2 linked regions of the Homo sapiens genome follow. The protein of the gene in region 2 purifies or fractionates together with the protein of the main gene of each other region. This does not show direct contact. Each region holds a gene or a part of one and is shown on either strand. Other genes may lie near its edges.

Region 1 (7,268 bases), on a different chromosome or scaffold from region 2:
ATTCCCAGCTATTCGGGAGGCTAAGGTGAGAACACCTCAGTCTCGGGGAGGTCCAGGCTGCAATGAGCTGTGATTGTGCCACTGCACTCTAGCCTGGGTGACAGAGTGAGACCTTGTCTCAAAAAAAAAAAGATAAAAAGAATAAGAAGTTTAAAAAAGCATGATTTAATTTCTAAGTTGATAGATAGTGTAATACAATGACCAAGTTAGGCTTCATTTAAGTAACCGGAATGATGACACGGTCCCTAAAAGGCCAAGCAGTCTAAGTGTAGTAAGTATCGTTGCTGTTATCTTCTTCTTAGTTATACTAAGTTCTTCACAATTAGCAACAAAAACTGACTTGAGGCAGGAAAAGCAGCTGTCCTTTTTTTCAGAGAATGACTGAACAGAATCTTGCTTGTGACTATCAGTGTGACTGAGGCCGGAACAGCGTCACTGTCCTTGCTTGAGCTCCATGCCCGACAATTCTGATTCATCAGATTTGGGAGAAGAGTCCAAGCATCTGCATTTTTAAAAGTTTCTCATGTGATTTTACTATAGCCCCAGGTGAGAACCACCGCATTACAGAAACTGAGAGCTGGAAACATGTCCAGCATTCAGTTTATCCACTGAGGCCAGTACAAGAAATGCAGCAGGAAAACAGACTTAGGACTACCAACGTTCCATCGGCGCAGAGCCCTCTCTAATCCAATCATGTTTAAGCCCTGGATTTAATCAGGACTTATACAATATGTCTAAAGAAAGAGAGTCAAATCAGCCCATGTAATATGCAACCAGCCTTGTGGTCTCACCAGATGGTGGCTTCTGCTCAGTCCGGGGGTCATTTATCTAAAGCTGTGTTATGATGCTCTGTCTGCTAGTCAGGGAGTCCTCCTTAAAATTTTAGAAAGAAAGTCATTAAACTAAGCACCTATATCTTTGTCATGTCAAATCGAAATGCATAGAAAATGAAAGAGGAGAGACTAACCTAAAAGACTGAGGTTACTATCTCAACTGCAAAACAGAGAAGCTACCTCCAAGCAGATGCCCAACCAATGTCAGATAACCTGCAGTCTGGGAAATCTGGAGTCTCTAAGTTTTGTTCTTTAGATGAACAGGTCTTTACCTTATATCTTCTTCTATCTTTGCCTGAGCTTCAAGGTCAAAGGGATCAGCAGAAAACAGACGAATCCTTTCTTGCTCTCTCCGGGCTCGGTCCTGCTGCTGCTCCACCAGGACTCTAGAAAATTTCTCTACAAAAATAAGGGAGAAAAATCTTAAATATCACTATATTTTCAACGTTTATCAGTACTTTTCCACACCAAACAATTTATCAAACTACATCTGTAAGAGATGCAGAGAGGATGCCTAAAGCTTATTTAAAATGAGCAATTACATTTACTTTCTGTTCTCTGAGTCAAGGCTATTTCATCATTTAAATTCAGTGTAAAGAAAGTATTTGTGGCTGGGTGTGGTAGCTCATGCCTATAATCTCGACACTTTGGGAGGCTGAGGTGGGAGGACCGTTTGAGCCTAGGAGTTCGAGACCAGCCTGGGCAACATAGCAAGACCTTGTCTCTACAAAAAATATAAAAATTAGTTGGGCGTGGTGGTGCATGCCTGTAGTCCCAGCTACTGTTGGATGGGGGTTCAAGGGTGGGGGGATGGCCTGAGCCCAGGAGGTCGAGGATGCAGTGAGCTGTGATCGCACCACACACTCCAGCCTGGGTGACATGGTGAGACCCTGTTTTTTTTTTTTTAAAAAAAAAAAAAAAAAAAGTATTTGCAAAAATTTTTTATAAGAAGTTATCTATCATATTGTTTCTACTCAGAGGTAACAACTTTCCAATTTAAAATGGTGGGGAGTGACCATGTGGCAGATCAATGTCTCCACTCCTCCATTCCTCATTGTTCTCATTATCCTACTACCTAGAAACAAAATACAGCATTATATAATCTCCTTTTCCTCTTCTAGTTTCATTTCTTTTATAACATGCCCTGCCTTAAGCCAGATACATTAAGTATAAACTATTTTTAGTCTACCTATATTTTGTGTGTGTTCTGATGAATTAATAGGCAGGAAAATTAGTAGAGAAAACACTGCTTGCTATAAGATGTATGTTACAACAAGAACCTATTTTGCAATTTCTTTTTTTTTGAGATGGAGTTTCGCTCTTGTTGCCCAGGCTGGGGAGCAATGGCGCAATCTTGGCTCACTACAACCTCCACCTCCCAGGTTCAAGTGATTCTCCTGCCTCAGCCTCCCAAGTAGCTGGGATTACAGGTACCTGCCACCACGTCCAGCTAATTTTTGTATTATTAGTAGAGACTGGGTTTCACCATGTTGGCCAGGCTGGTCTTGAACTCCTGACCTCAGGTGATCCACCGTGCCCGGCCTATTTTGCAATTTCTTAAATGGTGGTACATTTAAGTGTGCAAACTTAAATGCCCCATCATCACCATCTTTGGTGATTAGATATGCTGATATAAGAGATTAAAAGATATTATGACAATGGTTATCTGAACTACTAATGCACACAATACAGATGGATCTAAAAAGCATTAAGTTGAGTGAAAAGCCTAACACGAGCTGGGAGTGGTGGCTCACGCCTGTAATCTCAGTACTTTGGGAAGCCGAGACGGGTGGATCACGAGGTCAGGAGTTTGAGACCAGCCTGGCCAACATGGTGAAACCCAATCTCTACTAATAATACAAAAATTAGCCGGGTGTGGTGGTGCACGCCTGTAGTCCCAGCTACTTGGGACACTGAGGCGGGAGAATCGCTTGAACCCAGGAGGCGAAGGTTGCAGTGAGCAGAGATCGCGCCACTGCACTCCAGCCTGGGAGACAGAGTGAAACTCCGTCTCAAGAAAAAAAAAAACAAAGCCTAACACGAAAGAGCAGACACTCTATTATTCCATATACATGAAGTTTAAAAATACGGGAAACTAAACCATAAGATTATCAAAACAGTAGTAACCTATAAGGAGAGGAGATTGACTAGAAAGCAACACAGTGGAACTTTCTGGAGTGAGAGAAATGTCCTGTGTCTTGATTGGGGTTACAGGAGTTTGTCAAAACTCAAGGAATTGTATATTTAAAATCTGAGTACTTCGCTTAAGGTAAAGATTGCCAATTTAAAGACAGTCAATTGAGGAATGAGTCATTAAGTGTCTGTTATGTTTTTAGACTTAACCCAATTTAACTCATAAACCCAAGAGTAAAATGAGAGTAATTTACAGAGAAAACTCGATTCATAAAGATGGCTACAAGTTAGCTGGGTGCAACTGCTCATGCCTGTAATCCCAGCACTTTGGGAGGCCAAGGCAGGCAGACTGCTTGAGCCCAAGAATTCGAAAGCAGCCTGGACAACATGGCAAAACTCCATCTCTACAAAAAATACAAAAAATAACTTGGAGTGGACTGAGGTTATGGTGATTCCATTTTGCCATACAGGGCACTGAACCTTCCTGGCATCAGCTGGCATCAGCTGGCTTGTTGATGATCTCTTTAATTGAAGATCTAACTAAGGTTAAAATATCGGTACTGGCTGGGCATGGTGGCTCACACCTGTAATCCCAGCACTTTGGGAGGCCGAGGCAGGCGGATCACGAGGTCAGGAGATCGAGACCATCCTGGCTAACACGGTGAAACCCCGTCTCTAATAAAAATACAAAAAATTAGCCAGGTGTGGCAGCATGCGCCTGTAGTCCCAGCTACTTGGGAGGCTGAGGCAGGAGAATGGCATGAACCCGGGAGGCGGAGCTGGCAGTGAGCCAAGATTGCACCACTACACTCCAGCCTGGGCGAAAGAGCAAGACTCCGTCTCAAAGAAAAAACAAAGAAACAAACAAAAATCAGTACCTAGGTTATCTGCTGCCAAAAACAATGAGGAAAACAAAAAGTAAACCAAGGGGGGTGGCCTAGATGGATTTCACTGCTAAAACTCTATTGCTGTTTCCAAGTAACTCAGCCTTTGACTTTAGCACTAATTTACCTCTCACAGAGAAAAAACTGGTATGTTCAATAAATCATGTGACACAGTGTCGCTTGAGTCTCTTCACATTTGCTATGACACAGCTTCTTCACCTCAGGCCAGCCTAATAGCCTTCCAAATTTATAAGCTTACCAAGGTCTCCACTGAGCAGAGCTTCTGCCAGGGGTGGATTGCGTTCCTTCAGCAAGGACAGCTCATGCGGGTTGGCCAGCAACATATCTCGGAGCAAGGCTGGATTGTCCAAGCCCTGAGGAGATGAAGTTATTTCTCCAGGAGATGAGTGGGACTGCTGTGTTCCTGGTGGCTGGCGCTGCCGGGGACTTGATGTGCCAGGCACAGCTATACTACTGAAATCTATTCGGGGTAAGTCTGTTGGGGAAAATCAATTCAGTTTACTCAAATTACTCTACAAAAACAAGCACTTGAAGGAAACAGCAGAACACTTGCTCATACATGGTATATGACAGCAGCAAAGGTAACTGTAGACTTTAACCTTGTTCTTTCTCATGATGACTCTGAATATAAAGACTGCCGGCTGAGAGTGAATCGATAGAAGAAGAAAAATAGGGGGAAGGTGATGGTAGTAACTCCAAATTTTTAGCTTATAAAATATCTCACAATAGACATCAGGTTTTTAATTTATGTTTTTAAATCATTAAAGTGGCCAGGCGTGGTGGCTCACACCTGTAATCCCAGCACTTTGGGAGGTCAAGGTGGCTGGATCACCTGAGGTCAGAAGTTCAAGACCAGCCTGGTCAACATAGTGAAACTCTGTCTCTACTAAATATACAAAAATTAGCTGGGCGTGGTCGCAGTCACCTGTAATCCCAGCTACGCAGGAGGCTGAGGCAGAAGAATCACCTGAACCCGGGAGGTGGAGGTTGCAGTGAGCCGAGATGGCGCCATTGCACTCCAGCCCAGGCAACAAGAGCGAAACTTCATCTCAAAAGAAAAAAAAAAAAAAAAATTAAAGCTAGTTTCAATAAATATAATTGCATAAGTCTGGATGTTGTTCTTGAGAAAAATCCTACTCTGGTCTGACATATGGTTCAAACAGCCTTGACGCTTGGATTAAAGAATTTTTTTTTTTTTTTTTTGACACGGAGTCTTGCCTTGTTGCCCAGATTGGAGTGCAATGGCACGATCTTGCCTCACTGCAACCTCTGCCTCCTGGGTTCAAGTGATTCTCCTGCCTCAGCCTCCCGAGTAGCTGGGATTACAGGCGTGTGCCACTACGCCCAGCTAATTTTTTGTATTTTTAGTAGAGATGGGATTTCACCATGTTGGCCAGGCTGGTCTCGAAATCCTGACCTCAGGTGATCCACCCACCTCAGCCTCCCAAAGTGCTGGGATTATAAGTGTGAGCCACTGTGCCCGGCCGGATCAAAGGATATTATATATGTCAAGTGAGCAGCATAAATATTAGATGCTAAATTCTGCAAGTCAGTGCTAAACGTATTGGCTCAGGGAAGTTCTTAATAGTTCTCTGAATTTATACTTTAATCTGTGCATCTCTGCTAACTCTTCTCATGCCCTTGGGGAGCTAAACAGTGTCATCATTTTATAGAAAAGAAAGAAGAAAAGGGACTTGCATAGGTTCTCAGTGCTGAATACACCAAAAGCTACCACAGTTTAGAAGCTACAACTCCCAGGTTCTATATGCCAGGTGGAACTGACCTTACTAAAATGAAAGGAAGATAAAAGGGAATTTTAATCCTTACACAACGGACTCACATATTGTATGACCCCATTTATATGAAATGTTCCAAATAGGTAAATACATAGAGACAGAAAGTAGACTTGTAGTTGTCTAGGCTGCGGAGACTAGGGGGAAATGGGAAATGACTATAAATGGGTATAGGATTTCTTTTTAAGGTAATGAAAATACGCTAAAATGGATTGTGGTGATGGTTACACAACTCATGAATATAGTAAAAAAAAATCATTTAAATGCATGAATTCTATCTCAATAAAACTGTTATTTAAAAAAGAAAAATGAAAAAGAGAAAAGTAAACAAGGAGAGCCAGAATGAGGGGCTAGGCCTGAGTCAATCGACATTCCTTCAACTCCAAAAAATATAGTTGATGGTCAAACTTGTCTGAACAACTGAATACTTTTCTTAAGGATAACTGTGCTTAATGTTATAAATGACAGTACACTAAGCAATTCCACAGTGATCAGAATTATAGCACAATCCTTGCACTATTAAGGATTTTAAATAAACTAAAAAATCAAAAAACAAACAAACTTGTCTCAAGTCTGGGACTATCCTGAAGCCTTTTTGGACCTCAGATAGAAAAAGAGAATGCTTAAACTCATGATGTAACATTTCTACCCTTTAGCAGGGGTTCAACTAGCCACTTTCTTCAACTCCCAACCAAGGAAATGGTGAAGTGAAGAGGATGATCTCTGTGAGGTAGTTAATCTATACCAGCCAGAAAAACATATATGGGTGGGCCCTCTTTGCAGGTCAAGAAATTTTATCTCCACTCCTGTTATACATTATCTTGAGAGTCCATTCACTTCAGAATAATTCTCAAAAACATGTTTACTTAATAGACCAGATCACTCCTGCCCCAACCTGTTACAGGCTCTCTTGTCCATAAACAACAATGCAGAGGAAAAAAAAAAAGAAGTAAATTCCGGAATTAATAATCTCATCAAATTAACCAAAGGAAGATGTGGTTTTTACTGATTGTCATAGTTGTTTAAATACGTTTAACTTCTTCAGAAAGAAGTTTTAACTTCTTTCTAAAGTTTAACTGTGGCCCCAAGGGACTAATGTCTTCCAGATCTGGTGGAGCCGGTCCTTGATGGTCTCAGTAAGTTCCAGTTTCAGGCTGAATGGAAACACTGTGGTTAAAACTGCAGTCAGTCTGTCATCACCCAGACTCTGCCAGCATCTGTCACCATAAACTTTAAAACTGGTGACCTACAGGCTAAACACTATTTAAGAAAATCTATCTGAATATGGCAGCGAATGGAAAAAAACCACACATTTCACCAAGCTGTTTCACATTAAGACCTTATAATCATTTTGTGGATCATGAGCCACTTCAAGTATCTGAACAAAGCTATGACCCTCTCTCTATCCAGTGCACACACACATTCACATCCACACAATTCTGCATATTATTTCAGTGACATAGAACCTACTAAATCCCAATGCACAGAGTTCAGACTATAAACATCTATTATAAAAGCAGCATCAAAGATAGATAAACGTTTCTTTGTATGTGATTAACACAGCTGGTAGGAAAGAACCACAACTTGGTGGTCAAGCTGCTTAA
Region 2 (7,906 bases):
TCTGGCTTGAGTACTGAGTTTGCCGATTCCTGACCTAGAGGAACCCCATTCCCTTGCTCCCAAAACACATGGTTGAGCCCTGAGTGCTGGATATTGAAGGGTATAGTCTCGTATTTGCTGGAGGGTAAGCTGATGGGGAAAGTGGGGATACATCCCACTGCCCTGGCACAGATGTAGAAATCCAAGTATAGGTAAGGAGCAGGAGGGAAGGGGATAAAAAAAAATTCAAGTATAAAGTATGTGTTCCAGTATGCAGTGGCTCACACCTATAATCCCAACACTTTGGGAGGCCCAGGCGGAAGCATCGCTTGAGGCCGGGAGTTGGAGACAAGTCTGGTCACCACAGCAAGACCCCATCTGTAAAAAAATACTAGCCAGGCATGCTGGCACGCGCCTGTGGTCTCAGCTACTCAGGAGGCTGAGGCGGATATCGCTTGAGCTGCTTGAGCCTAGGAGTTTGAAGTTCAGTGGGCCGTGACTGCACCACTGCACTCCACCCTGGGTGAGAGCAAGGCCTTGTCTCAAAACTAAAAGTATGTGTCCCATGATGCTGCCTGAAAAATTAAGGCTGAGAGACAGGAGACATTCAGGTTATTTGCTGAGTGATGGTGACAAACGCAGGCTTCCTTAGAAGGTAGACTAAGCTTAGGCGCCTTATACTCCTGCTAAGAACTCAGGCCTTGGGCCGTGTGTGGTGGCTCATGCCTGTAATCCCAGCACTTTGGGAGGCCGGGTCGGGTGGATCACCTGAGGTCAGGAGTTCAAAACCAGCCTGGCCAACATGGTATAACTCCATCTCTACTAAAAATACAAAAAAATTAGCTGGGAGTGGTGGCACGTGCCTGTAAGCCCAGCTAATCGGGAGGCTGAGGCAGGAGAATCACATGAACCTGAGAGGCAGGGGTTGCAGTGAGCTGAGATCTCGCCATTGCACTCCAGCCTAGGCAACAAGAGCAAAACGCTTAAAAAAAAAAAAACAAAAAAAAACTCAGGCCCTACTCCCGTTGTCCTCATCATGTCTCCTTTGTGCTCCCACGGAACTTTGAACCTTATTGTTTAAAGACGAGAGGCAAGGCCGGGCGTGGTGGCTCACACCTGTAATCCCAGCACTTTGGGAGGCTGAGGTGGGCGGATCACGAGGTCAGGAGTTTGAGACCAACCTGGCCAACATAGTGAAACCCTGTCTCTACTAAAAATACAAAAATAAGCCAGGCATGGTGGCGCATGCCTGTAGTCCCAGCTACTCGGGAGGCTGAGGCAGGAGAATCGCTTGAACCCCGGGGGTGGAAATTGTGGTGAGCCAAGATCGCGCCACTGCACTCCAGCCTGGCGACAGAGCAAGACTCCATCTCAAAAAACAAAAAACAAACACGTTAAAAATGGGTAAAGAGAAGTAATCTACTTATGGTCACAAAGCTTACATAAGGGTAGACTTCATTGAACCCATGAAGTCTAGCCCTAAACTGTCTCTTCTTAACTATTCCAATGTGCTGTATCTTAACCACCTCTGCTGGCCCACGTTTGTTGAGTGGGCTGCTGTTAGTCCTGGAACCCAGAGCCCTGTACCCCTCACCTCAGGCTGTCAGAGAAGGCCTCCAGGCCAAATTTGGAGACACAGTAGCCCCCACCATTGGCTGCCAGGCGACCCAGGACGCTGGTGATGTTGATCACCCGGCCCCGGGCTTGCTGCAGCAGAGGCAGCAGGGCAAGGGTGACCCCGATGGGACCCATTGTGTTCACATTCAGCACCCGCTGGAAATCGTCCCGGGTCAGCCATGGTGTGGGTCCGATGATACCAGCCACACCAGCATTATTCACCAGACCAAAAAGCCCTGTGGGGAGATGAAAAGGATGCTGGGGGTAGGTGAGGCACTCCCACAGCTCCCTCTTCTTCCTGGGAGCATCTGAAAACTGCTTCTCCTCAAATTGTCCCTTTAGCTTACCACAGCCCTTGCAGGTGACTCCTGGGGTGACTGTGGGGATCAGGACACCCCACACCATATTCCTGGTGGTCTACCATACTTACCTGCTTCCTTAACGTGCATCTCCACCCACTTGGCTGCCTGCTGGACGCTCTGGGGATCAGTGATATCCAACAGGGTGGTGTGGAGGCGGGAGGAGGCCACCCGCTGCAGGTCCTCGGCCCCGGAGGGGGTCAGGCAGCTGGCCAGGACTCGGAAGCCTCTCTGGTCCAGCTGCAGTGCCAGAAGGCGCCCAAAGCCTGAGTCACAGCCGGTGATGAAGACAAAGGCATTGCTGGCGGGCAGGCTCTGCCGGTCCCTGAGCAACCACAGCACTGCCCAGAGTAAGGCACCCAGCAGAAGAGGCAGCCACATAGCTGGAGCCCAAGTGACCTACAGGTGGCAGCCTAGGCTGGGCAGAAAAACTTGTCCAGTTTACTGTGGCCCTCAAGCCCTTTCCCCTAATACCCTCCCTAGCTGGAAGCATCTGGTGTGAGCATATTGAGAAATTATCTGGTTGGCAGATAATTGGCCAACCATGGCTCATCTGTTCAAAGCAAAGATGTGGGCAGACCCTGTATTTGTGGCTAACTTAACTAAAACCACATGAGCCAGATCCTGTGTACAGACCTGCTGTATGGAGCAGAGGCATCTTTTTTTTTTTTTTTTTTTTTTTGAGATGGAGTCTCACTCTGTCGCCCAGGCTGGAGTGCAGCAGAGGCATCTTCTTGCTTGCCTCACACCACCTCTCCTTCTAAACCAGGGACACTGAACCTTCTATATGCAACCTGGGTCTTGTGTTTGGAATGATGTATAGGGCCAAGAGGTTTGCTGTGTGATACTGAGCATCTCACTGTCTCTCTCAACCTATTTTCTCATCTACCAAGTGGGGCTAAGACCCACCAGGTCCACCTCAGAGTTGTGGAGGATCAAAGGGGATAATGTGTGAGGAAGCATGTTAAAAGCTGAAAGTTTTGAGTTGGCAATACATGTAATATCTGGCTAGTCTTCTCAGTTCCCCCAGCTCCCAGTATCCACTTACCTCCTGTGGCGAAAGCTGGCAGGTACTACAGCGCCCGAAGCTTATTCTTTTGCTTTTGTTTAAGAGACTGCTCCCAGTCTTCCCAGCCTCCCACACTAACTACTGCTAAGGCCAAAGTCCGGAGTGGGTGGACTTGGATGCCAGGCGTATTAAGTGTATGTGTGACAGGGTGGGGATAGGACTGAGGAGGAGGAGGAGCCAGGGAGGCTGGAGCTTGCCTGGCTGAAGCCAGGACTTGGCAGAGGCCAGATTTGCCTAGGCTCCCCCCACCCCTTGGCTGTCTTTCTCAGCCTGGGTTCCTGACCATCTATGTCATGGTCTCCAAGGAGGAGGGAGCTGTCAAGGATGGCAGCTGCACTGCTCTGTTGGTAACGGTTACTGGACCTGTCATTCCTCCCCCTTCTCAGCCCTGAAGTGCCCCCAGGAATTAATCTCCCACCTGGCTCAGACTCATGACACTGCTTAGAGTTAGCCTGGGAGAGGCCATGAGCACGTGGAGAGGCAGAAAGCCAGAGCTGGGGACCAGGCCTGTACCTTGCCTTGTTTCTCTTCTGTAGGAAACAAGTCCTGAATTAGGAAGCTTGGGGCAGGGCTACTAGGACCTTCTCTCAGGAGGGATGGGAACTCCCACCCTCTGCTTGCCTAACAGACACCTGCACAAGGGCCATGGAGGAGAAGAGAGTTGGGATAGTAAGAGGAAGCTAGTTCCACCCTCTCCCCAAAAGGTACCTGTCCCTCAGGGAAACCACCTTTGAACCTTCCACTCCCACCCCCGACACTGGAGCTAGTAGCTCTCTGAAACACACCACAGAGAAACGGAGGCTTGTGTTTTATTCAAGGCTTGTCAGCCTCCCTCCTTCCCCCTGCGGGTGAGGTAGGAGGGATAGGGTTGGGGGAGGGAACAGGGGCTAGGAAGGGGCAGACTGCAGCTGCCCTTTGTAGACATATTCCAGTGCAGTGGCAATGGTGCGCATGTCCAGCTCGATGCTCCGAGCCCAGTTCTCCACATCCCCAATTTCCTGGGAAGGGGGAGAGGAGGTGGGAGCCCAGGAATCAGAATGGGTAGAGTATGGCTTCCAGTCTGGGGAATACGTTTTATTCATCTCCTGGAAAAGGCTTTACTTGGACCCACCAACTGCTTTTCTTTCTTTCTCTACCTTTTCTGACACTGGGGCTATAGATGGGGTTTCTGGGACCACCCTACTTCCTCCTTAACCTAAACCTGAGGTAACCTGACTGGAGGCAGCCAATGGGGGCCCAGGATTGGGGTGGTGAGGTAGGGAGTATGGCCCACCTTGAGTGCCTGGTTGAAGTTCTCCACCATTCCGATCCACTGGCCTGTCTGCTTGGCAAATTGGGCAGCCTGGACCTGTAGGGTCTTCACCTCATGGTCCAGCTTTCTCTGGTTCATGTAGGCCTGGGCCACACTGGGGGGTTGGAGGAGGGAGGAGATCAGCTCCAGCTAGTTGGGGGTGGTCTCCGGGACTAATATTCCATTGCAGCAGTGGGAGTTCAGCCAAGAATCAGGGCTCATAATTTTGGCCATTTTTGGATGTGATGCAAATGACTACCAGTACATGCAAATAAACCCAGCTCCTTCCTTTCACTCCCAGGATTCCCAGGAGAGCCAAGCTCGGAGCTGACTAGAAACATACCAGCTCCAAACCCCAAAAAGGAGTTCCTGCAGCTGAGTGGGGGAAGGGAGGGAAAACCTGGGGTGATATCCCTGAGGAAAAAGCTGGGAGGGAAAAAGGGGCATGGAAAAACTGGGAAAATCCAGCAGGAGGAACACATCTGGCAGTGATTGGAAGCCTAGGGATCTATGCAAGAAGTTGGAGAGGGAAATTGGGCCCCTCCCTGAAGCCGGGTTAGGATGGGAGTACAAACCCCCTCCCCAGGAACCCTGGGTCAAAAGAGGGTATCCCAGGGGTTTCTTCTCGGCTCTCAGTTGCTCTCCCAAGCCTTCGCTTTTGCCCACACAGATCAAGGAACACACACAAACACACACACACACACACACACACATGCTCTCCCTCCCTTCTGCCTTAGGCACTAGTTTTTCTTTTCAATCAAGGTATGGGCTGTGGTTACCATTACTACCATGGGGTTGGTGTCCCCAACCTTCTGCCAGTGTTTTTTGCCCTCCCCAACCCCTGCAATAATTGTTCTCCTTTATTGGCTGTTGAATTTTTCACTTCCCACCCCAGAGCTCTACTCAGCCAGGAGATTCCACATCCGGTGCCCCCACCCACTGGAATGTGTGGGGGCTGGAGCGGGGAAGGGGTTGGTGGGGGCTGAGGGAGTGGGCAGGACACCTGACAGGGGCCAAGATAGACTGAGCCTTTGTTTTCCTTTCCGGGGAATGAGAGGAGGCGTGGGCAGCAACACAAAACCCTTTCTAATCTGGCTTTGGCTTAGCTGCCCTCTAAGCTGAAAGTGGGGTGGCATCTAGCAAAGGAAAAGAAGAGGGAAAGGCCTGGGCCAATCTCACAAATGATGGGCACAGCAGAGCCCAGGAGGTGCCAATGTGGGAGGGAGGAAATGGGAGGGCAGACCCTGTTCCTTCTTTTTGGGAGACAGCTGGGTCACTGTCAAGGGTCGGGTAGGAACTGAAACAGACTCCCCTGAGAATTCCTGAACTTCTGGTTTTCCCCATTGACCACCTGCTTCTATATTCACACTGAGTAAAGAGAGCTGCCTGGAGAGAAGGGAGATCAGAGGCCCCAGCCACAACTTTCTTTCTCTCAACCTTCCCCCAAGATGAGTAACAAAGATGACCCCAGCCCCTGCATGGCTCACTTGGATGACTCAGTCTCTGGATTCACACCGAGCTGTTCTACTTGACCTGGGGTGGAAGGTACCATACTGCCTTTCTTCCAATAGGCAGACTAGCAAATCATCATCTCTGCACGCTTCTGGGTCACTTAGGGTCAAGAGACAATGTTCTTTGCTTTTTCCCAAGTCTTTGGCTGTTACTTGCATTCTCATTTAGGGCTGGGGCAGGGTGTGGTCCCTAGAGACCCAATAGGAAGGTAAGAGACAGCCTGGCTCTGCCATAGCTCCCGGAACAGGTTCTACTCTCACCACCACCAGCTCTGCCATCTCTTTCCTGCCAGCTGCTCCCCAGGCTTGCCAGAGGGTGGGAGGCAGAGGAGAGGGTGGTAAGCTGTAATGAAGGAGGGTGCTCTCCCTCCTGCTGAAGTGACAGCTGGACTTGGAAGGGTGAAGGGAGGTGGGCAGATGGCATCAAGTTGTAAATGCCAGGGAAGTTAACGTGGGGAAGGGGAAATCTGGCTGCTTCTCTAACCACGGCAGCTGTTCCTCCCTTGCCCAGTGCTAGGACTCAGAGTTGACTCAAGTTGCTCTACAAAGAGCTGGGAGGGGCGGGGTAGGATAGGGGAATTAGTGGAACATCCCACCCCTTCAACAGCTATTTGAGGGCCAGACTGGCCAGTGCCTAAACTTGGGCGGGGTGGGGAAGGAGGAAACTGATGTTGATAAGAGGTCCATACCCCACATTGAGGTGATCCACCAAAGCTTCTGTCAGGCAGGTCGCTGCAGTGATAGCCTCTCGCCTCCTCTTTTCTGGGGAGAGGGGGAAAAGGAATTGGAGGGGAGACTTGGTTTTTTGAGGGGTAGTGTTAAAGGTTCCCTACCCATCCATTACTATTCTGCTAGTTGCCGAAATTTCTTAACTAATCTCTGAATGCCGGAGCTGAAAAGGACCTTGCAAAACATAGCGCAACCTCTTTCATTTTAGAGATGAGGAAACTGGTACCCTGGGAGGGAAATGGACTCACTCAGGGACGCCAGGAAGTCAGCGGCAGCGCCCAGGACTCCTGACTCCCAGGCACTCTTTCTCCACTACTCGGCCGCAGAATCGGTAACTCCGAGATTTCCAGCCCGGACTCAGGAAACAAGTGCCCCACCTCCGTTCCGGTGGTTTCAGGCCTCCAAGAAGCCCATCTCTGGGGGGTTCCCCACACCCTCCTCCCTCCAGAGTCGCTCCTTCCCGCCGCCAGGACGAGAGGCTCCCAGGGCCAATAGGCAGGGCGCTCCGGGGCAGGGGCGGGGCTAAGGTGCGGCAGGTCGGGGATTGGGGGCGTTGCCGAGGGGACCGGAGTATTGCCCAAGGGACCGGAGCCAGTTGGCAAGGGAAAGGAGTTTCAAAAAAAGCCTCTCTGAAATTCCCTCTCCCCCATGCCCGTTGCCCGCTAGCTGGCGTCTTTCCCTGGATATGGTTAGTTACTCGAGATCCAGGCTCCGGGCTGAAGCTAGGCCGCGGCCGAAGAGAAAACGGCCGACAGGATATTTGGCTCACCCTGCAGCTCCTTGCGTTCATTCTGCTTGGCCTGGTGTTCTTTTAGGAGGCGGGACAGCATGGTCACGTCGGGCTGGGGGCTGGGTACGCCGGGCCCCCTCCGGCTCCGGAAGCTGGAACGCTCACCTCGGCTCCCCGGGGCCATGTCACGTGACCGCTGTGTCACGTGAGGTTGGGAACCGCCCTCTTGAGACCTTGGGTGAAGATCTTGGCGGGGAAGAGAGGTAGAGGGTTGCGGAGGGCAGGTGAAGTGTTCTTTATTGGGAGCTTAGTTTTTGGTGAGTGTTGGAAGAAGTATTTTCTAATACTTATATTGCCAAGCCAGTTTTTAACATTTCCTGTGGATCTCAGGCTTCGAGGGCTGGTGGTGTCAGGCCGTCTATCACCGTTTAATTGAGGGAGCAGAAGCTCCCTGGCCTCATTTAAATTATTCTCCTTCCCTCTCCTCACCTCCTGGCAGTGCTAGCTGGTTCTCAGTTGATTCCCAGTTCCTTCCCTCAAGGAGAGGATGCTTTCCTGTCTCTCCCAACCCTCTTTCTTCTCACTACCCCACTGAAGTCTCTCAGCTCTGGGTGATCATTG

Evidence for each region.
Region 1: the proteins of RDH5 (region 2) and DDI2 purify together in Homo sapiens (affinity purification with mass spectrometry; 3 studies listed by BioGRID and IntAct, with this or other methods). This does not show direct contact.

Annotation. Positions count from the first base shown.
Region 1 is NC_000001.11:15,627,403-15,634,670, reverse strand, and holds part of DDI2 (protein DDI1 homolog 2), read right to left. Parts: intron 4,347-7,268; coding exon 4,110-4,346; intron 1,233-4,109; coding exon 1,106-1,232; intron 1-1,105. UniProt on the Homo sapiens protein: Aspartic protease that mediates the cleavage of NFE2L1/NRF1 at 'Leu-104', thereby promoting release of NFE2L1/NRF1 from the endoplasmic reticulum membrane.
Region 2 is NC_000012.12:55,715,615-55,723,520, reverse strand, and holds the start of RDH5 (retinol dehydrogenase 5), read right to left. Parts: upstream 3,129-7,906; 5' UTR 3,004-3,128; intron 2,374-3,003; exon of another isoform or gene 2,369-2,373; 5' UTR 2,337-2,368; coding exon 2,027-2,336; intron 1,833-2,026; coding exon 1,574-1,832; intron 1-1,573. Other genes in the region: BLOC1S1 (biogenesis of lysosome-related organelles complex 1 subunit 1), read right to left, coding at 3,912-4,022, 4,298-4,430, 6,516-6,588, 7,325-7,469. UniProt on the Homo sapiens protein: Catalyzes the oxidation of cis-isomers of retinol, including 11-cis-, 9-cis-, and 13-cis-retinol in an NAD-dependent manner. Has no activity towards all-trans retinal.